Linked DNA regions of Homo sapiens. The protein of the gene in region 2 interacts with the protein of the main gene of each other region in a biochemical or structural test. Each region holds a gene or a part of one and is shown on either strand. Other genes may lie near its edges.

The links. The genes of interacting proteins can lie anywhere in the genome.
Region 1: the proteins of SEC23B (region 2) and TMED2 interact in a test that uses a peptide from one of them, tested with the Homo sapiens proteins (one study listed by BioGRID).
Region 3: the proteins of SEC23B (region 2) and GALNT1 interact in a test that uses a peptide from one of them, tested with the Homo sapiens proteins (one study listed by BioGRID).

What each region holds. Positions count from the first base shown.
Region 1 is NC_000012.12:123,587,530-123,594,556, reverse strand, and holds part of TMED2 (transmembrane emp24 domain-containing protein 2 isoform 1 precursor), read right to left. Parts: intron 6,947-7,027; coding exon of another isoform or gene 6,926-6,946; intron 4,216-6,925; coding exon 4,108-4,215; intron 1-4,107. UniProt on the Homo sapiens protein: Involved in vesicular protein trafficking. Mainly functions in the early secretory pathway but also in post-Golgi membranes.
Region 2 is NC_000020.11:18,552,937-18,559,963, reverse strand, and holds part of SEC23B (protein transport protein Sec23B), read right to left. Parts: intron 5,730-7,027; coding exon 5,574-5,729; intron 4,857-5,573; coding exon 4,791-4,856; intron 1-4,790. UniProt on the Homo sapiens protein: Component of the coat protein complex II (COPII) which promotes the formation of transport vesicles from the endoplasmic reticulum (ER).
Region 3 is NC_000018.10:35,682,718-35,689,744, reverse strand, and holds part of GALNT1 (polypeptide N-acetylgalactosaminyltransferase 1), read right to left. Parts: intron 6,355-7,027; coding exon 6,147-6,354; intron 3,679-6,146; exon of another isoform or gene 3,374-3,678; intron 3,066-3,373; exon of another isoform or gene 2,814-3,065; intron 2,730-2,813; coding exon 2,559-2,729; intron 573-2,558; coding exon 455-572; intron 1-454. UniProt on the Homo sapiens protein: Catalyzes the initial reaction in O-linked oligosaccharide biosynthesis, the transfer of an N-acetyl-D-galactosamine residue to a serine or threonine residue on the protein receptor.

The DNA of each region.
Region 1 (7,027 bases), on a different chromosome or scaffold from region 2:
CAAGCTCCTGACCTCAAACAATCCTCCTGCCTCAGGCTCAGAAGCAGCTAAGACTACAGGCACAAGCCATTGTGTCCAACTCTCCAGTCAAATTCTATAGCCTTAGCTTTTAATTACTATGTAGGCTGGGCACAGTGGCTCATGCCTGTAATCCCAGCACTTTGTGAGGTCGAGGCGGGTGGATCACGAGGTCAGGAGATCGAGACCATCCTGGCTAACACAGTGAAACCCCGTCTCTACTAAAAATAAAAAAAATTACCCAGGCGTGGTGGCAGGCACCTGTAGTCCCAACTACTCGAGAGGCTGAGGCAGGAGAATGGCGTGAACCTGGGAGGCGGAGCTTGCAGTGAGCCGAGTTTGCACCACTGCACTCCTGCCTGGGCAACAGAGCGAGACTCCATCTCAAAAAAAAAAAAAAATTCTATGTAGTGTTTTATTTTTCTGCAAATAGCCAACATTAAAAACAATTACACTATAATCCCAGGACTTTGGGAGGCTGAGACAGGAGGACTGCTTTTGCTCAGGAGTCAGAGGCCAACCCTGGGCAATATGGAGAAACCCAGTCTCTACAATACCAAAAAAAAAAAAAAAAAATTAGCCAGGTGTAGTGGCACATGCCTGTAGTTCCAGCTACTTGGGAGGTTGAGGCGGGAGGATCACTTGAGCCCAGGAGGTTGAGGCTGCAGTGAGCTGTATTGTCAGCACAGCACTACAGGCTGGGCAACAGAGTAAGACCCTGTGTCTCTAAAAAGAAAATAGGGCTTGGCGTGGTGGCTCACGCCTGTAATCCCAGCACTTTGGGAGGCCAAGGCGGGTGGATCACAAGGTGAAGAGATAGAAACCATCCTGGCCAACGTGGTGAAACCCCGTCTACTAAAAATACAAAAATTAGCTGGGCTTAAAGATTCACTGGGTACAGCCAAGTCCATTCCGCTTGTATACGGGGAGCAGAGAAGAAAAGGTGACTTGCCCAAGGTCATAATTCTAGGGTTAACACCCAATCCAACCATCTTTCTCCCTCACCATTGAAACGTCCTATATTACTATCCATTTTGCTGAATCAGAAAACTGACTTCTACAAAAAATTAAGGAATTATTTCAAAATCACAGTTATCCAAAATGCAATTATTTACAACGTCAAAATTTGGTGGTGGCGTGCGCCTGTAGTCCCAGCTACTCAGGAGGCTGAGGCAGGAGAATCGCTTGAACCCAGGAGGTGGAGATTGCAGTGGGCTGAGATAGCACCACTGCACTCCAGCCTGGGCAACAGAGCAAGACTCCGTCTAAAAAAAAAACAACAAAAACCAGAGAGTCTGTAAAAAGAAAATAGGCCAGACACAGTGGCTCAGGCCTGTAATCCCAGCACTTTGAAAGGCAGAGGCAGGTGGATCACTCAAGCCCACGAGTTCAAGACCAGCCTAGGCAACTCCTGGGTTCAAGTGATCTCAGCCTCCCAAGCAGCTGGGATTACATGTGCCTGGCTAATTTTTGTATTTTTAGTAGAGATGGGGTTTCACCATATTGGCCAGGCTGTTCTCTTGGCCAGGCTGGTCTCGAACTACTGACCTCGTTATTCGCCTGCCTCAGCCTCCCAAAGTGCTGAGATTACAGGCATGAGCCACTGTGCTCGGCCTAATTTTTGCATTTTTAGTAGAGACGGGGTTTCACCATGTTGGCCAGGCTGGTCTCAAACTCCTGACCTCAGGTGATCCACCTGCCTCGGCCTCCCAAAGAAAAATGCACCTTTAAGTTTAAATAGAACACATTGAAGCACAGTAACATCAGAATGTAGTGACCTGGGACACTGTCCTCATGCCACTCATATATCAGCCTGATCTAGAAGCAACACATTATTATTACAACACTGTAGTGAAAGGATCTCATTATGTTCACTGCTGAGGAGTGGGTCCTATAGGAAGACTCACAAAAACAAAACATTATGGGAACCATTTGCTTTGTAAATTTAAACTGAATGCCTATAAACTCAATTCTAGAAATTGCTAACACTTTTAAATATGAACACATAGCTCACTATTTGTGAAACAAATACAGGAGTATCTCCACTCAAATCATGGGTGAGAGAACAAGGTTGGACACCCTAAAGACGGAAGACATGTGCTTCCTCTGGCCACTGTGTTCCCAAGAACTTCTATAACTTGAAAGCCATCTGGTCTGAACCAGTTAAAATTGCAAAGTAGAGGAACTTGCCCTCTGAGTTAGTTCAGTGCCCTTCCAACTCCAGAATGGGCTGTTTCCCCATCTGGGAACAAGGTAAACAACATATGAGTCCCAACAAGATAAGAGAGAAAAAGTGAAGATCCCAGCTGGTGAGATTAAGAGTGGAGGCAAGGAGACAAAATTGTGAGGCAAGAGGCTGGAGTAATTGTAGACAAGCCTTGGTCCATAATATGCCCCACTCCACTCCTAAAACAAGTGGGGATGAGGGGAGTTCTCCAGGCTATTACATTTACACACCTTCCTGCCAACACAAGCTGATGTCTGTGCTCTAGATCCTGAAGATTTGTTTCCATAAGTAGCAAGAACAGATTTAAGGGTAGGAAAAACAGAAAGCACATCTGGAAGAAATTCAAGCTGTGCTTATCTCTTTGAGTCACTCTTCACTTCCTACTCCAGTCTCAGAACAAAGATTCCTGACATAAAATCACTGCCCTTAAGACAAGAGCTTGCTCCCAAGCAATCCCCCGCCTCAGCCTCCTGAGTAGCTGGGACTACAGAGATGCGTCACTATACCTTGCTCTTTTTCCTTTTTTTTTTTCAGACAGAGTCTCGCTCTGTCGCCAGGCCGGAGTGCAATGGCATGATATCAGCTCACTGCAACCTCCGCCTCCGGGGTTCAAGTGATTCTCCTGCCTCAGCCTCCTGAGTAGCTGGGACTACAGGCGCGTGCCACCATGCCCGGCTAATTTTTGTAGTTTTAGTAGAGGTGGGATTTCACCATGTTGGCCAGGATGGTCTCAGTCTCTTGACCTTGTGATCCGCCCACCTCAGCCTCCCAAAGTGCTAGGATTACAGGCGTGAGCCACTGCCCCCAGCCACCTTGCTCTTTTCATCTCCCCAAGAACTACCTGGAGGATGAAAACACTGAACAATGGTGTGGCCCTGAACCTAATCAATGGAATTGGTCTGTCTGTCAATATAGTACCTCTTAATTTTAAATGCAAAAGCTTCATTTTTAATGCTCTATCCAGTTCTAAACAGACTTTTGCAACCTAACACAAGATTTCAATCATCACTGTTTCCACAGCAAAATACATTCCAAATTCCCAACTTACAAACTTGAGGACCCAAACTGATCTTCACCTGGTGACTTCCCTGTACTCATGTTTTGGTGTTTTCTAGTCTAACTATATTAAGCTTTCCATTTTAGTAAAAAGGTTAAATCTCAGCATCTAATATTAATCCCACTGGTACATAAGTTTCAGGTATGTGATTAAAAACCAATGCAATACGCATTTTACAACATTTTTCCCTTCTGATTTAAGAAAACAATTAGCTTATTCCTTAGCTCACCATACATTTTTAAAAACCCAAACTTTTTTTTTTTTTTTTCCCTGAGACAGAGTCTAGCTCCATTGCCCAGGCTGGAGTGCAGTGGCCCAATCTCAGCTCACTGCAACCTCTGCCTCCCGGTTCAAGTGATTCTCATGCCTCAGCCTCCCGAGTAGCTGGGACTATAGGTGCACGCCACCACACCCAGCTAATTTTTTTATTTTTTGTAGAGACGAGGTTTCACCATGTTGGCCAGGCTGGTCTCGAACTCCCAACCTCAGGTGATCCGCCTGCCTCAGCCTCCCAAAGTGCTGGGATTACAGGCGTGAGCCACCATGCCCGGCCAGAAAACTAAACTCTTAAAAACTTGTACTAAATCTTAATAGCATTTTCTAGTTTACAATGAATGTCCCAATAATAAACTACAAAGCTCCACACATGTGTATGCTCAAAAAATATCTCGTGTAGGTACACTTTTAAAGTCAATGCTTTCACATAAAATTTGCAAAGTTTCCAAATGAGGAAAATACGAGCAAGCTGTTGAGTAAAACAACCTTCACCATCAGACACTGCTGCAAAGTGACGGCATTCACTTACTGGCTCTGTGTATTCTCTCCCGGACTTCCATGTATTCCTGTTCGTGCTTTACAGCTGTCATCGCCACTGCTAGCTCATTGATCATTTCTTCTAGCTTGTTCTGGTGAGCTATAGAAGGATTTGAAAACAAAACACATTTGTCAATGTCTTTTTTTTTTTTTTTTTGAGACAGAGTCTCGCTCTGTTGCCCAGGCTGGAGTGCAGTGGTGCTCAATCTCAGCTCACTGCAACCTCTGCCTCCCAGGCTGAAGCGATTCTCCTGCCTCAGCCTCCAGAGTAGCTGGGATTACAGGCACACGCTGCCACACCCAGCTAATTTTTGTATTTTTAGTAGAGACGGGGTTTCACCATGTTGGTCAGGCTGGTCTTGAACTCCTGACCTCAGGTGATCCACCTGCTTGAGCCTCCCAAAATGCTGGAATTACATGCGTGAGCCACTGCACCCAGCCATCTTTTTTTTTTTTCAAGACAGGATCTCACTCTATCACCCAGGCTCAAGTACAGTGGTGCAATTATAGCTCACTGTAACCTAAAATTCCTGGGCTCAAGCAATCCCCTGCCTCAGCCTCCTGAGGGGTGCGTCACTATGCCTGACTACCATTTTATTTTTATTTTTTAGAGACGGGGTCTCGCTATGTTGCCTAGGCTGGGGCAATCTCTTTTTGAAAAACACTTATAAAATAAATATAAAATATAAAATAATATAAAATAACTTTTCAAAATCCTCAGAGAAGGCCTGCAAAAGAAGCTACTTTTGAAATGGTTCAAACATCAATTTGGACTACTGATATGAATCATGTCAATTTAATTCTCAAAGCATTTTTAAAAGTCCCTTCCCAGTAGAGAAACCTCTTTCAGGGTAGGAAACATACTATATAATGCTTACTAAGGAAAGGAAAACAACCCCAGGAAATTTCTTCTAATGGAATGTTGTTATGTGAAGTTCACTATACTGACTATTAACTACAGCAAAAGTAGTAAAACACTGAGGAGAGGGGACTAAGAGCACAAAATAAATACCTGTATTTTTAAAATGTAATCCTACAAATAAAGTCTAAGAGTCATGTAACTCTAATATTAATTAAGAAGCAGGAGCAGCACCAAAACAGACTCTTAATCTCTATAAAGCTGAGCAGAGAAAAACATTAAAACGCTCTTAGGAAAATCCACACCAACTCAAACATTCTTCTTTGACAAAGTAATAGTTTCACTATAGTGGGGAACAGCAGGCAATGTAAGTAGAGAGACAAGCCCTTAGCGGCACAAGTTTTCAACCAGGCATCCCTCTTGAACCAAAAATACACACAAGGCACTGTTCTGAAGAGTAAGCATGTGCTTCTAGGTAGTGCCACGTTATGAGAATGAACAGACAGGCAGGAGAGAAACAGCACCAGGAAACCTTCCTGGGAAAGGGGGATCTCTTCATCCCTGCCCAAGACTGGGTCTCTTCTGGGATTCCAGATTCTCGCAGACAACCCCAAGTTTCTTAGGAGAAACCAAGGGCCTCTACCATTGAAGGCAGTTGAATTGGAATGTCAAACCGTCCCTCACTCGAAATTTCCCTTTGGAAGCCCCATGCACCACATGGAACTGATAGAGCAGGGTTTCTCAGCAGTGGCATTGTCTCCATTTTGGACCAAATGCTTTTCTATGCTGTGGGGCGCTATCTGATGCACTATAGGGTATTTAGCAGCCTCCATGGCCTCCAGTCCTAGATGCCTGTAGCACCTACCCCCAGTCTTCCGAATAAAAAATACCTCCAGATATTGCCAAATATCCCCTGGGCATCCTCACTTGAGAACCACTGCTTTAGAGGAAGGCTTGATTTGACAGCTGCCATTCACTGACATTAACAAGCAAAAGCAAGAATTTTGGATATATGTTAAAAAATTATCTAAGAAGTTCAATATTCACATTCATCAACCAACATTTTCAAACTATTTAAGTAGGATCAAACTCCAGAAAATAAACCAAAAAAGCCTTTCAGAACTCCTCATTCTCCCTGAAAATTAGTCAAGTCCTACCCTATAAGTGGCCCTGAAAAATGAGTGCAGGAATTACTAAGTAGTAGGACTCTCTAAATTCTATAGATTTCAAAATCCAACCAAACAACTCAGCTTCTTTATGATGTTAACACTCTACTGATACTGAATATCTGGGAGAAATGTTACCACGCTAATAGTATACTATGAAATGTGTGAAACAATGACTAGCTTCAAAAACTCTGGCATGCACTGTGGGGAAAAAAAAAACAAAAAAAAACACCACCAAATGTGCTGGCTCCCGGTAAGCAATTTATCCAGAACCACCAAGAACCAATCAGGGTTTATTACTGGTAACCTGAGCAATGAACACTCTAACTGCAACATATGGCTAAAAGAACTCTTGTCTTCATATCAACATATGGCTCCTAGAACTGCATTTCATATCCAACTAAGCTTCAGGTTAAGAAGTCTACAAAATGACTTTCTACAAAGTCAAAGGCACCATTTGCTATGAGCTATGTTTAATTGGGACTTCTGTCCCCTTATCATTGAATTTCCACTCTTTAGCATTCATCTTAAAGAACAAAGATGTTACTACTAAAATGTCAACTGTGTTTTCAGTGCTATTAGTTTAAAATAACCTAACCTATACCTCCTGTCAACGAAATAAAAAACCACCAAAAAAAATATCAATCCAATTAGTTGTAGGGGTTTTTTAAGAGAAAAAAACACTCTCATGCCAACAAACTGAGGTTAGAAAAAAGAAAGCAGAAATTAGACATTAGCAAACAAAAAGATGCAAAAAGGATGCTGTCAAAAAGCAATCCACATACCATCCCAGGTATCTCCACCACCTAAAGAAAAGTTAAGATATCTTAACACAAAAAGAACCAACAAAAAGTTTAGCTAAACTAGTCATGTATACAAATGAGCAA
Region 2 (7,027 bases):
AAGTGTAAGCATGATCAAAATGTTTTCAGAGGATTTCGAGGAAGGAATAGAATATATACTTTTCTCTATTCCTCCCACTAAGTACAACTGAAAACTTCGGGCATCTTATGTAAACCAAACATAAGAAGACTTTTAAAGGTGGAGAGAAGACAGAAAAACTAAAGACCTTGGGACCCAAGGATGCACAGCAGTGAGTTCCTTGGGCTTTCTTATGCCTCATATACTCTGAATTTGGAGCTGAGGAAGCTGGCAAATTGTCATTGAGCACAGACTCAAACAAAACAAAACAACAAAAAACACCCACTTTCTCTAGCCAAAGGACTAAAGCAGCCTAGCAAGACAGAACAATCTTAGATAATAACCACTGTACTCCGGGCAAAAATGAGAGGAAAAACTGTGGCCCTGACCCACCTGAACCAGCAAAGGCTGGGTGGGCAGCTACAATTTCTACCCTCACAAGGCAGTAACAAGGCACCCTAATACTCCCACCAAGATGGTGCCAGAGAAGGCTAAGTATGGAACCAGGAAGTTCATCCCCAATGGCCAAGTAAAAAAATTTTCCTACCCCTGTGGTGTCAGTAGAGGCCATTTGGGGAGCCTGGACTTCCACCGCAACCTGGCAAAATATATGTCCCTCCGCCTGCCTACTGGGGTGGCCTCAGAGGCCTGGAGGAGGGTCAGGACTTTCACCATCACCCAAGTGTAACAAGGCCATCTCCACAGCGGTCTCACTGGAGGCTATGGGGGAGCTGGAACTCTCATTCCCACTAAGCAGTAACAAGAAATCACTAGACACCCCGAGGTGTCAACAGAGGCCAGTGGAAAACCTGGACTTCTCCACCTGGCAGTAATGGAGCCCACCAGTGCCCCCGACACCCCCCCCACCAACCACCTTCCCTGTCAGAGTAGTGTAAGAAAAAATCAGCGAAAAGTAGCAGGTTTAAATAAGATCCAGGGTCTCATACAAACACTCAAGTGTCCAAGTTTCAATAAAAAAATCACTTACACAAAGTGATTACCAAGACCTCCACCTGAATTAAAAAAGACAAGTGACAGGTGTTAACACTAAGTTGACAACAATGTTAGAATCACCTGACAAAGATTTTAAAACAGCCATGATAAAAATGCTTCATGAGCAATTACAAACACACTTGAAACAAATGAAAAAATAGGAAGCCTCAGCAAAGAAACAACAAGGTCCCAGGAAAGAAGTGGAAGTCACGGAGAACCAAAAGGAAATTTTGTAACTGAAAAATACAGTGACAAACAAAAAGCGCAGTGCATAGGTTCAATGCAGAAAGAGAACAGAAAAAAGAATCAATACATTGGAAGACAAAACAATAGAAGTTACCCAAATGAACAAAAGAAAGAAAATACATGGAAATGTAGTACCTGGGGTACTGCAAAAGATCTAACATTCATGTCACTGGATGTCAAGAAAGAAAGAAAAGAGAGCAGGTGAAAAGGCATTCAAAGAAATAAGGACTGAAAACTTTCCTATTTGGCAAGAGATAGAAACCTACAGAAGCAAAAAGCTGAGTAAATCAAAACAGGATAAACCCACAGAAATCCATGCCAAGACATGTCATAATTACACTTTCTTCTCTGCCCCTGCCCATCCACCCTGAAAACTAACAACAGAAAAAGACTACTGGAAGCAGCCAGAGGAAAATGACACCTTCTCTACAGGGGAAAACAATGAGACTGACAGTGAACTTTTCATAAGAAACCATAAAGGCCAGAGGAAGCAGCACAATATTTTTCAACTGCTTAAAGAAAAGGGCTGTTAGTCAGAATCCTATATGCAGAGAAAATATTCTTCAGAAATGAAAGGGACGTCAAGACATTCTCAAATAAAAGAAAACTAAAAATCTATCACCAGAAGACCTATGCTAAAAGAATGGTTAAAAGTAGGCCAGGCGCGGTGGCTCATGCCTGTAATCCCAGCACTTTCAGAGGCTGAGGCGGGCGGATCACCTGAGGTCAGGAGTTCGAGACCAGCCTGACCAACATGGAGAAACCCTGTCTCTACTAAAAATACAAAATTAGTCAGGCGTGGTGGTGCATGCCTGTAATCCCAGCTACTCGGGAGGCTGAGGCAGGAGAATTGCTTGAACCTGGAGGCGGAGGTTGCGGTGAGCTGAGATCACACCATTGCACTCCAGCCTGGGCAACAAGTGCAAAACTCCATCTCAAAAAAACAAAAAAAAAAAAAAAAGAAAAGAAAAAAGAAAAAAAGAATGGCTAAAAGATCTCTAAAAAGAAAGAAAACAATAAAAGCAACCATGTAGAGAAATATAATAGGTTTTTCTTTTAAGACTTATCAATTATGTTTGATGCTTGAAACAAAAATTATAACACTGTCTGATGTGATACTAAATGTATGCAGAGGAAATATTTAACATAATTATATTACCGATGGAGGAGAGTAAAGTGTTGAAAAGGGAGGTAAGGTCTCTAGACTTCGCTTGAACACCAGTAGACTGTGATAAGTTATGCATATATGATGTAATACCTAGGGCCTGGCCAGGTGTGGTGGCTCATGCCTATAATCCCAGCACTTTGGGAGGCTGAGGTGGGAGGATCGCTTGACCTCAGGAGTTTAGGACCAGCCTAGGCAACATAGCAAGACCTCATCTCAATTAAAATAAAAAAACCTAGGGCACTTAGGAGCAACCACTTAAAAAGCTAAATAAGGAGATACACTCAAAAACATTACAAACAAGTCAGAAGGGAATCCTAAAACATGTTCAAATAACTCATGGGAAGGCAGGAAAAAAGTACGTAAGATGAAAAAAGAAAAGCAGAAAACAAAAAATAAAATGGCACACTTAAGCCCTAACATATCATTAATTACATTATATATAAATGGTCTAAATATACCAAGTAAGAGAGCTCAGCAGAGTGCATTAAAAACCATGACCCAACTATAAGCTGTCTATAATAAATTCACTTCTTTTTGTTTTTCAAGATAGCGTCTTGCTCTGTTGCCCAGGCTGGAGTGCAGTGGCGTGATCTCAGCTTACTGCAACCTCCGCCTCCTGGGTTCAGGCAATTCTCCTGCCTCAGCCACCCAAGTAGCTGGGACTACAGGCGCATGCCACCACACCAGCTAATTTTTGTATTTTTGGTAGAGACGGGGGTTTCACCGTGTTGGCTAGGCTGGTCTCGAACTCCTGACCTCGTGTTCTGCCTACCTTGGCCTCCCAAAGTGCTGGGATTACAGGCGTGAGCCACCGCACCCAGCCAAGAGTTTTTAAAAACCTACTGCAAACAGGAGAGAGGAAATAACAATGACTAGAGCAGCAATCAATGAAATTGAAAATAAAAAGATAATAAAGTCAATGAAATGAAGAGCTGATTCTTTGAGAAAATAAAGTAAAAGTTATTCAGATTGAAAAGGAAGAAATAAAACTGTCCCCGGCTTGCAGATGACATGATTGTCTAAGTAGAAATTTCTGAGAAGTTTACAAAAAAACTCCTAAGAGTAGTAAGCGACTCAGGAAGGTCACAGAATACAAGATAAACATACCAAAGTCAATTGTATTTCTATATACAGTCATCCCTCAGTATCTGTGGGGGAATGGTTTTAGGACCTCCTGTGGATCCCCAAATCCACAAATGCTCAAGTCCCTAATACAAAATGGTGTAGCATTTGCATATAACCTATGCATACCCTCCCATACACTTTAAATCAGGGGTCCCCAACTGCAGGCCACGGATAGTACCAGTCCTTGGCCTGTTAGGAACCAGGCCACACACCAGGTGAGTGGCAGGTAAGTAAGTGAAGCTTCATTTGTATTTACAGCTGCTCCCCCATCACGTGCATTACCACCTGAGCTCCACCTCCCATCAGATCAGTAGCAGTATTAGATTCTAATAGGAGTGCAAACCCTATTGTGAACAACGCATGTGAGGGATCTAGGTTGCATGCTCCTCATGAGAATCTAATGCCTGATGATCTGTCACCGTCTCCCGTCACCCCCAGCTGGGACCATCTAGTTGCAGGAAAACAAGCTCAGGGCTCCCACTGATTCTACATTATGGTGAGTTGTACAATTATTTCATTATATATTACAATGTAACAATAATAGAAATAAAGTGCATAAGTGTGGTGATGGAAATGCTGCACATCTTGACCTTAAAAATCTCAATATCCCGGTTGTGATACTGTATTATAGTTTTTGCAAGATGTTAACACTAAGGGAAAATGGGTAAAAGATACAGGTGATCTCTCTGTATTATTTCTTACAACTATATGTAAATTTACAATATCTCAAAAAAATTTAATTTAAAAATGTTTTAAGAAAACAGAATGAAAGGAAAGACTCATCTGAGAGAGACATAAATGCTGGGAGCAGTTAGATAAAGTAGTAATCAGGCGGGGTTGGGGGAAGAAAAGGGAAGGAATTAGGCTGGAAAGTGAGGAGGCGGCAAAACCGATGGTGACAAGTTGCCCTGTATTCTTGGTGGGGAGAGGACTAGGGGCCATGAGGCTGTGTGACGGAGGACACCACCATGGAGGCCACAGTACAGTGCTCTGTCCCCTGGCCTGAACCTGGTATGTTCTGCTGTATATTGTGGAAGGGGACACACCCAGGGAGCCCCCTCAACCTCCGGCCCAGTAATGTTATTCAACTTGTTTCCCTCCCCGCCACTCCCCAGCAAAATACCCAACTTACGCAGTTATTCTGTCTCCAGGCCAAAAGAGATCCAATTTGTAGAATTTTAAAACAAGTTTAAAAAAAAACTAGCTTAGCATCCTCCCCAAATACCTGAAGATTTCTTACCTGTCCCCAAGCATACAGGTTATTGTGTGTCTGAGATGGGTTCACTTTGGACAAAAGGAATCGAGCCTTTAACAACAACAACAACAAAAAGATTTAAAGATTAAAAAGTGACATTAATATTAATGTAACAGAAAAAAGATAAGTTTTTACAACATTTGTTTGGTTAAATTAGAATTGTTTTACTGCACAGTAATCTAATTAGAATTGTTTTACTGCACAGTAATCTATTTCTTTAGCTTAAGCCCACTGGCTCTCCATTTAAGGATCCTAAAACATAAAATATGTATTTTATCTTGGCAATCCCTTTACATAAGCACATTTTGACCACTCATTTTTTTTTTTTTTTTGAGACGGAGTCTCACTCTGTAGCCCCAGCTGGAGTGCAGTGGCACGATCTCAGCTCACTGCAAGCTCTGCCTCCCGGGTTCACGCCATTCTTCTGCCTCAGCCTCCCGAATAGCTGGGACTACAGGTGCCCGCCACCACGCCCAGCTAATTTTTTGTATTTTTAGTAGAGACGGGGTTTCACCATGTTAGCCAGGATGGTCTCGATCTCCTGACCTCATGATCCGCCCGCCTCGGCCTCCCAAAGTGCTGGGATTACAGGTGTGAGCCACCGCGCTTGGCCTGACCACTCATTTAAAAAGAAGTCATATTTGGAAGATTACCTGTGTGTCAATTTATGTCATCACATAAAATATTAACCATCCTGTTTAGATGTATAGCAATAACAATCTATCATAAAACGAACAAACCACTGGAGTTAGAACTCAGCTCACTCACCTGACTGCCTCCATGCTCCGTGTTGATGTAACGTGGCATCGGGAAGCGTGCTTGCAGAATTTCTTGAGCATCATCCAGTGGTGCCTGCAGAAGGTGCTTGAAGTTTTCATACTCGGGCATGTCCTGGTAGCCAGCTTTACGCCACTGGGCTATGGTCTACACAGAAACAAACCAACCAAAACTATTGTGGAAACTGTAATAACAGCCTTCACTGACACTGACATTCTACCATCGCCACCCAGAGCTTGTTTCTAGTGAAGAAGTCTAATATCAAAAATGACAAGCTTCAGAGGGAGAGCAAAGCAGAGCTACCGGCAGGAGGAGAAGCAGGAGGAAAATGCCCCCGCCTGCGCATTCCCCCAGGAATGTCAGGCGTCACTCATGCCTCCTCTCTTCTATATCAACTAGTTAACAAAGCCCATGGATTACTCATCCCAAGGAGCGGTGGACTCCCTCCTTTTCCACTTCCACTGTTATCACTCAGTCTAGCCTCTCATCTCCGCACATCTGGTAAGGAAAGGGATTTGTTGGCTGCCCACACAGACTCCACTCCCCCATCTCCTTTCCTAACGGCACACATATTACACTCCTCTGGTGAGCAGTAGTCATACAGACTTGCGTGCAATTGTCTCACCCCCATCCCCTGCTCCCCCTGGGCCCTGAATTGGGGTACCCTTGGCAAAGGAGACAAAAGCTGTAAGAATCAAAGTATGAGTGTTGATGAGGCAGTGAGGAGAAGCCATATGCTAAACTGTGGAAAGCAGACGATCTGTCTCCCTGACTACGCTACACATTTTATCACCCTTCCTTCTTTTATACTCATCCACAACTGGTCTAGAAAATATCTTGTATACACAGGAAATCAAGAAACATTCATTAACTGATTCATATACCTTTATAAATAAAGTGAAGTGCTTTCGCATGTTATTTAGGAGAACAAGAAGACAATGGAGAGGAAAAATGGAGAAAGAGGCTACAGCAAGTGTGCAATGTGTCTTAACAGAGCCATTAATATGGCTCCAGGCAGAGGATTCTCATCAGATGCCTCCTTCTGTAGCCTGCTCACTCCTTCTCAAAGTAGCAGTTACCGTTTTCCAGGTCTAAATGCTGTGATTGACTGTTGGCCTATGGGAAATGCCCACGAGCTCACCAGGGTCCAGAAGTTCATAAGAACACTCGCGTTCAGCACGCTCAGGACTTTGGGAAGGTGAGAGCAATGTCACTGTCTTTATCCTTAGAACCCCTCACTTGCACAAGAAGGTGCTCAATAAACAAGTGAATGAACAGGATCAGGGGTTGCAAAAGAAATGTCGATAAGGAGATGAGCTTAAGGCAAAGAAAGCTTCATCCTTAGTACAGTCGGCCCTCGGTATCTGTGAGATTGGTTCCAAGACCACTCCTCCCAATACCAAATTCCATAGATACTCAAGTCCCTCATACAAAATGGCATAGTA
Region 3 (7,027 bases), on a different chromosome or scaffold from region 2:
TCGCATTTTTATTGAAAAATATAAAGCTGGTAAAGTGACTAGGTTTTATATAAAAAAAATTTTCACACTAAAATAAAAAGCATATTACAAAATGTGAAATTTATGTTTAAATGTGAAATTTATGTTTTTGAGAGTAAAGCAGCAAAGTAGCATATCCAAACTATATATTAGCTTTTAGAGCTTAAATTACTTCCTTGAAAATAATAAAAATTAAAAACAACTAGGGAATCTTGTGTAAGTTTTATAGCTGAACTTCAAAGGTAACTAAATTATTTGCTTCAATAGTTTATAATGAACCCTTACTATCAGTCCTTTTTATGGACTGAAGGCTCTGAAGTTACATTAAACTTGTATTAAATTCAATTTTTATTTTTTATGTAGAGATACATGAATAATCAATGCACATCTATACTTGAAGTTAAATAAAAGATTAAATTTTTTTAAGGGAACTTACCCTAAAGGAAATTTCTAGGTTTTCTCCTCCCCAAATATCCATTCCAGCATCATATGTTCCAATTTCCTGAAAGTAATCTCTGTCTATTGAAAAAAGGCCTCCTGCCATGGTAGGTGTCCTGAAATTCAATAATGCTATACCATTAGCAATTTAAAATTTACAATCAATCAGTTTTTGTTTTTAAAAGCTGTTTCATAACTATTTATAACTACTGAGTAAGTACTTATTCTCACACTCTTCATAAACTTTCATACGCCCCAGGGGCTTTCTGTGTTTTATGCTGTGTTATTTGGTCTTCACACATGACCTGCACCATGGTCATGCTGACTGCTAGACTTGCTGTGTCATGCTTCTGCCCAGACATCCCTCTCTGTCACAGTCCTAAGAGTACTTTCTATCTTTCTTGGCCCTCAGGTCCTAACTGAGTTTAGATCTCAAACTCCTTAAATTAAAGCTGTTCCTCACAATCCTCTCCATCTGACTGTGCACCCACTCCACAGATCCTAGCAACTTCAAGGCAGTTGACTATATTAACCAAGTAGATTGAGGTTAGAGTTACCATGCCATGTTCTAAAGGGTGGCAAATAGTATAAATACATAAGATAAACTGGATGGAAACAGTGAGGTCTTTTCCTAATACCCACTAGAAATCTTTAAGGAGAGGAGACAAAATATAGAATAAAATCAATATGTTCCTTCCTGACTGTGTGGTATATTTTCTGCAAAAGAGGAGTCTAATTCATCAAAATAGGGCTCAGGTATGCAAAGGGAGTGGGAACATGTGAAATTAAGCAGAGAAATTATTAAGAAATGAAGGAAGATTTAAATAAATGAATATCAGCCCATTTGATTTTTATAAAGAACAAGTATGGAGAAAAAGTAAACTCCAACCAGGAGAAAAAAATAAGTTACAGGGACCAAAGATACCACGAAGATTATATTTTAAGATGAACCCTAAAATGTACTCATTGCCTTTCCAGAGGAAACAGTTGTTTCCAAAAAAGGTTTGGACTTATTTTGATTTTAGAAGAAAAAAAGAATGAGAAAAGGATTTAAAAGAAACAGCCAAAATTCAGAATTATCATTTAATACAGGGTTTTCTTGACCTGAGTTTTTTGTGTGCTAAATCTTCTGCATGTACATGTGCATTTTTCTCCATTAGAGAAGACCCATAGCTTTCACCAGATTTTCAAAAAATTTTGTCATTTTTGAAATGTTTAGGAACCCCTGATTTAGATAGTGAATTGCACTAACAGCTAAAGAGAAGAAAAGTCCCTTGCACTACTACTACTAAGAACTCAGGCTAAGGAAAAAAGCACACAGTCAGTGGAAAATCTCTTCAGTGTTGCCAGAACTGAACTTGAATTCAAGGGAAGGCAGACGCAGGAGGCCCAAAAACAGAAAAGCTGAAGCCTGGTTCTGAAGGAACTCTTAATACAGAAGTAGCAGGTCGGTACAATGGGGCTAAATTCTAGGATGGCTCAGAAGAGCTCAAAGGTCTCAATTTCATGTTCTAAAAAGAGCATGAAGATTTTTATTCCATCCTGAAAAAAAAATCTATATATGACCAAGTAGAGAAAAAAAATCAGAGAATAAATGGATTAATGAATTTTTTTATATTTTGTGTCAATTCTAGCTATTTTTATGTTTTACACAAGCTTTTCTAACTTTACCAGTCAATAACTGTCATCCAGATGGTACAAGTCTGAATTTAAAATTGTACATTTTAATGCAAGGACCCAGTTTTAGGTAGTATCTTCACATACTGACACAATTAATTAAGCTAAGTATTATTATCCTTAATAACTGAATTAAAGTACAGATCTGACGCATTTGCAAAATGTTCATAAAGGAATGAAAAAACACGCATGTCATCATTTCTCATGTGCACTAGATTTATAGAATAAGCAAAAATTTCTAATTTTATTAGAGGAGAAATCCTTCTTTAAAACACTCACATATGTGAAAGATGGCTGTTAACTACCATAAGGTATACGAATGCTTCACGTTTCTCAAAATACACTTATCCATTTGATATGATTCCCAAAGCTCCACAACCTTCTGCCAATAACACTTTAGGCAAAATGTCTGACAAATTAATTACCTGACAGGAAGAGTCCGATCACCTTTCCTTCTGTCCATTTCTCTTTGGGGAACAGGATACCAGCGAAAATTGAGCTTCCAGTTGAACCCACCATAGGTCATATCAGAGCCTGCCATGTACTCAAAAGTATCATCACTGATCACATCGATGATGGGACACACCACTGTTCTCCTGATGTCATAAAAGCAAGTTAAGAAATCTTTCAAAACATTCCTGTTTAATGCCAACTACAGAACAATTGTATAGTAAGTGTTTTTATTTTTTATTTTTTCCCTTGAAACAGGGTATCACTACTCTGTCACCACCCAGGCTGGAATGCAGTAGTGCAATCAGGGGCCACTGCAGCCTCGACCTCCTCAAGTGATCTTCCCACCTCAGCTTCCTGAGTAGCTGGGACCACGGCTGGGATCACATAACACCACACTCAACTAATTAAAAAAATTTTTTTTTTGTTTTTTATATTTAAGACTTTAATCTTCAAGGGACTGATTTTAACTATGATATACAGTAAGTATCCAACTTCATTTATTTCTTCTATGGATAACCAGTTGTTCCACCACTATTTATGTAATGGTCCCTTTTTCTTCTGCTGTAACTATGAGTGACTGCTCTGTCATAAATCAAGATTACATACAAAAATGAGCTGGTTTCTAGACCCTACCCTGTTTCACTAGTCTATTTGTGAATTCCTGCATCAATATACCACTGCCATAATTAACACAGCTTTAAAATAAGTCTTGACGCCTAGTAAGGCAAGCCCCCTTAGATCTGATTCTTCTTCAGAAGCATCCCAACTATTTTTTTTCTTTTTACAGTTCCGTATCAATGCTAGAATCGGCCTGTACAGTCTCTCAAAGAAAATTCTGTGGAGATTTCAATTGGAAATGCACTGAATTTATATATGAATTTGGGTAGAATTGATACTCTTATGATATTGACTTTCCTATCCATTTCTCTCTCAAGATTTTTTCGTGAATTTCAGTAAATCTTTTGATAAACATATTCCTATGTGTAGTCTATGACTGCCATTGCTATTACGAATGGTATCTTTTCTTTTTGCATTATATTTTCTAAGTATTCCTTGTTGGTGTGAAATAAACTTTTCATTCTTTTGTTTGGAGATGGAGTCTCACTCCTGTTGCCCAGGCTAGAGGGCAATGGTGCACTCTTGGCTCATTGCAGCCTTGACTTCCTGAGTTCAAGCGATCCTCCCGACTCAGCCTCCCAAGTAGTTGGGACTATAGGCATGCACCACCACGACTGCCTAATTTTTTGTATTTTTAGTAGAGCTGGGGTTTCGCCATGTTGGCCAGACTGGTCTCGAACTCCTGGGTTCAAGTGATCTGCCCACCTCGGTCTCCCAAAGAGCTGGGATTACAGGCGTGAGCCACTGCTCTAGCCTGAACTTTTCTATAGTAATCTCGTGTTTGGCAACATTGCTAAATTCTTATTGTTTCTATTATTTTATGTATAGATTCGTTTTCTTCACAAACACATACACAATTGACAACAATGCTTTTCCTTTTTCCAATAAATAAATGTTCTTTATTTACTGTAGTACTGCAAAACCTAAGAAAGACTTCTAATAATACTAACTGGTGATTGAGGGCATTAACATCTTCTTCCACATCTTTTTAAAAAATGCTTCCAACATTTCTCCATTAACATGATTTCTGCTTGCAAAGGCTTTTTTTTTTTTTTTAAGCCATCCTTTCTTGGATTAGTAAACTTCCACTGTATAATAGTTTGCTAAGTATTTTCTAACAATAAATTCATGTTAAATTTCAGTGAACCCTTTTTCATTATCTATGGGAGTGATCAGAGGTGTTTAATAAGTTTGTAATCACAGTTTTAAAAATACATTAATGGGATGTATTAAACGAATTAGTTTTTGTAATATTACGCTAAACCAAGCAGTCATGATATCATGATATGTTTTTTACACGCATACGTGCACGTGTGTGTGTGTATATTGCTGGTTTAGTTTGCTGGTATTGTGAGATTTTTGTACTAGCATTCATGAACAGATTTGCACTGTAATTTTCCTTGTAGTACTTTTCTGGTTTTCATATCACAGTTATACCAGCCTCATAAAAAGAGTTTGGTTCGTTTCCTCTTTTTCTATATTGTTTACAAATTCTTAGGGGAGATTTGTTTCCCCTCTGCCACTGCATACCAAGGTTGAGACAGGCAAGTTTTCTCTGATGTGGTGGGATTAATTTTTCATTCTTGCTTTATACTAAGATACAGATTTCAAGAGCCCAGCTTTATACAGGTGTTTGCTATTAACCTTCTCACCTGAGGCAGGACCTAGGTTTTTGTCTCCTATCCTTCCATCTTATTTGTCTCTCAAGGCAGAAGCTTAGTGACCCCAAAGTTCAGCAGAAACCCTACCAGCGAAAGCTGGCTTTAGTGTTTGGACTGCACATTTGCTCTCACTTCTTTTCGAGATTTGCAAATTTCTTCCTTTTGTGCCAACTCAATGATGCATTTAAAATTTGTTTTGTCTTTTATCCAGCTTTTTCAGTTGGAAAAGTTATTCAGAATATCGAATCCACCATGCAGCCCAAACTGGAAGTCACTGTGGTTGCTATTTCAGCTGACTCCCTTCCATACTTCTGTCATCACCTCACCTTGCTTTCTCTCTATGGGTTGTGTGTTATCTTCAGGCGAGCAAATATTCCCTAAAACGTCATCTATTATTTAAAGAAAATAATTTACAGATATCCTATTCTTTTGATTCTTCAGGGCAATGTTCTCTTTTCTAAAGCTGCTCTACTTTCCCATTGATTGGCCCAATGCTGAGTTTTCCTATTTATTCATCTTTGAAAGGGAAAAAATATAGATCCAGCATTTGCTATCAAACAGAATAGATGCTGTGGCTTTAGCTCCCACCGTGTTCCACTTGACTAGTAAAAGTTCACTCCACTAAAATCTAAACATGGACAGTCTCTACCTCAAATTACAATGACAAGCAGAAATTCAACCAACATAGGTCTAGCAGACTGAAGTCAGGTTCTCTCCTGATGCACAAGAACTAAGCCAGAAATAGGGAGTTCTTTGAAAAATGTGTAACATGAAAAACTATAACCACAGGTGTTCATTACACCACTGTTCTTCCTGTATTATCTAAGATTATGGTGCTTTCCATACAAAATTAAGCATTTCAGGACACAATGTGCTTCTCTCCATTCTCTTCTACTTCTTGCTGCACTACAAGCTGAGAGGATCTGCCTGCTCCAGCATTAGCTTTAGAGTGCAAGGACAAGTGAAGGGTTTTATGCTGTCTTCCCTGAGTTCACCATCTATCTGTTCTGCTCCAGCTTGGTGAACACAGCATATAGTATACATTCCAATGACATGCTTCCTAATCACTCCTCATTAGTACAACAGTTTGCAAACATTCCTGCCAGGCTTCAGAATGTGGTCTTCTGGATATTTCCTTTAGAGTCCTCTTCACGGATATTTTAAAGCAAACTTGGGAGGAAATTACTTTTATATTTATTTAAAAAATATAGAATTTGGCAACTCACCATATAGTTTAGGACAAATGTACTAAAAGCAAACTTACAGACACCAGAAAATTACCTGTCATGTTTGATCCTGGCCAAGAGAGGCTCCAGCCATCCCACTGTACACTCACAATGGGCATCCAGGAAGGTGATCACTTGGCCTTTAGACACAGCAGCTCCTTTTAATCTAGCTCTGATCAATCCAGAACGTTGTTCCATTCGAATTACATGAACTGGTACTTTTAGTTTTTTCACATAACTCTCTAAAGGCCTTTTCAAAAAGTCTGGAAAATGAACAAAAGAAAACATGCAAACCAGTGTGGCCTGGCACTATTCAGATGAAAGTAATTTTGATTTGGAAAATTTATTCAACATACCCTTACTGAACACTCTCAGTGAGGCTCCCTGACTCATAAACCCATTCTGCTAAAGGAAGCCTTTATATTCCCCAAGAGAATGGACTACAGCTGCCTCTATTTTATTATATGCAGAATTAGGAGAATGCCTTTGTGCTCAGACTTAACCAAGGATAGGAATGCTCCTATGTTTCGCTAAGTAACTCTGTTAGACTCAATTCTTTCTCTAATCATGCTTAAGGATCAGCAATACAAAGAAAGCATTAAATCCAGACCTCAACAGAGAGAAGACACAGAATATGTAATAGCTGTAGAGTTCAGAAAATTGTGAAATTTCCTCAGAAGCACAAACAAATTGTCTTGTTGATTACCATGGTCTTTGACTATACTTTTTTTTTTTTTTTTTTTTTAATCAGGGGGCAGAAAGTGGGGTCACACTTGGAAAAGAAATGCTGGACTGTTAACTGCAAGGCCAAATAGAGATCCTTAAACTGACAATTAGGTGTAAGAAAAAAAGTTTAAAAAGGAAAGGGCAATTGAAGAAGAAAAGAGAAAAAGTGGGCAAAAGGGGAAAGGGAGAGTATGTGGGTGTATGAAATCA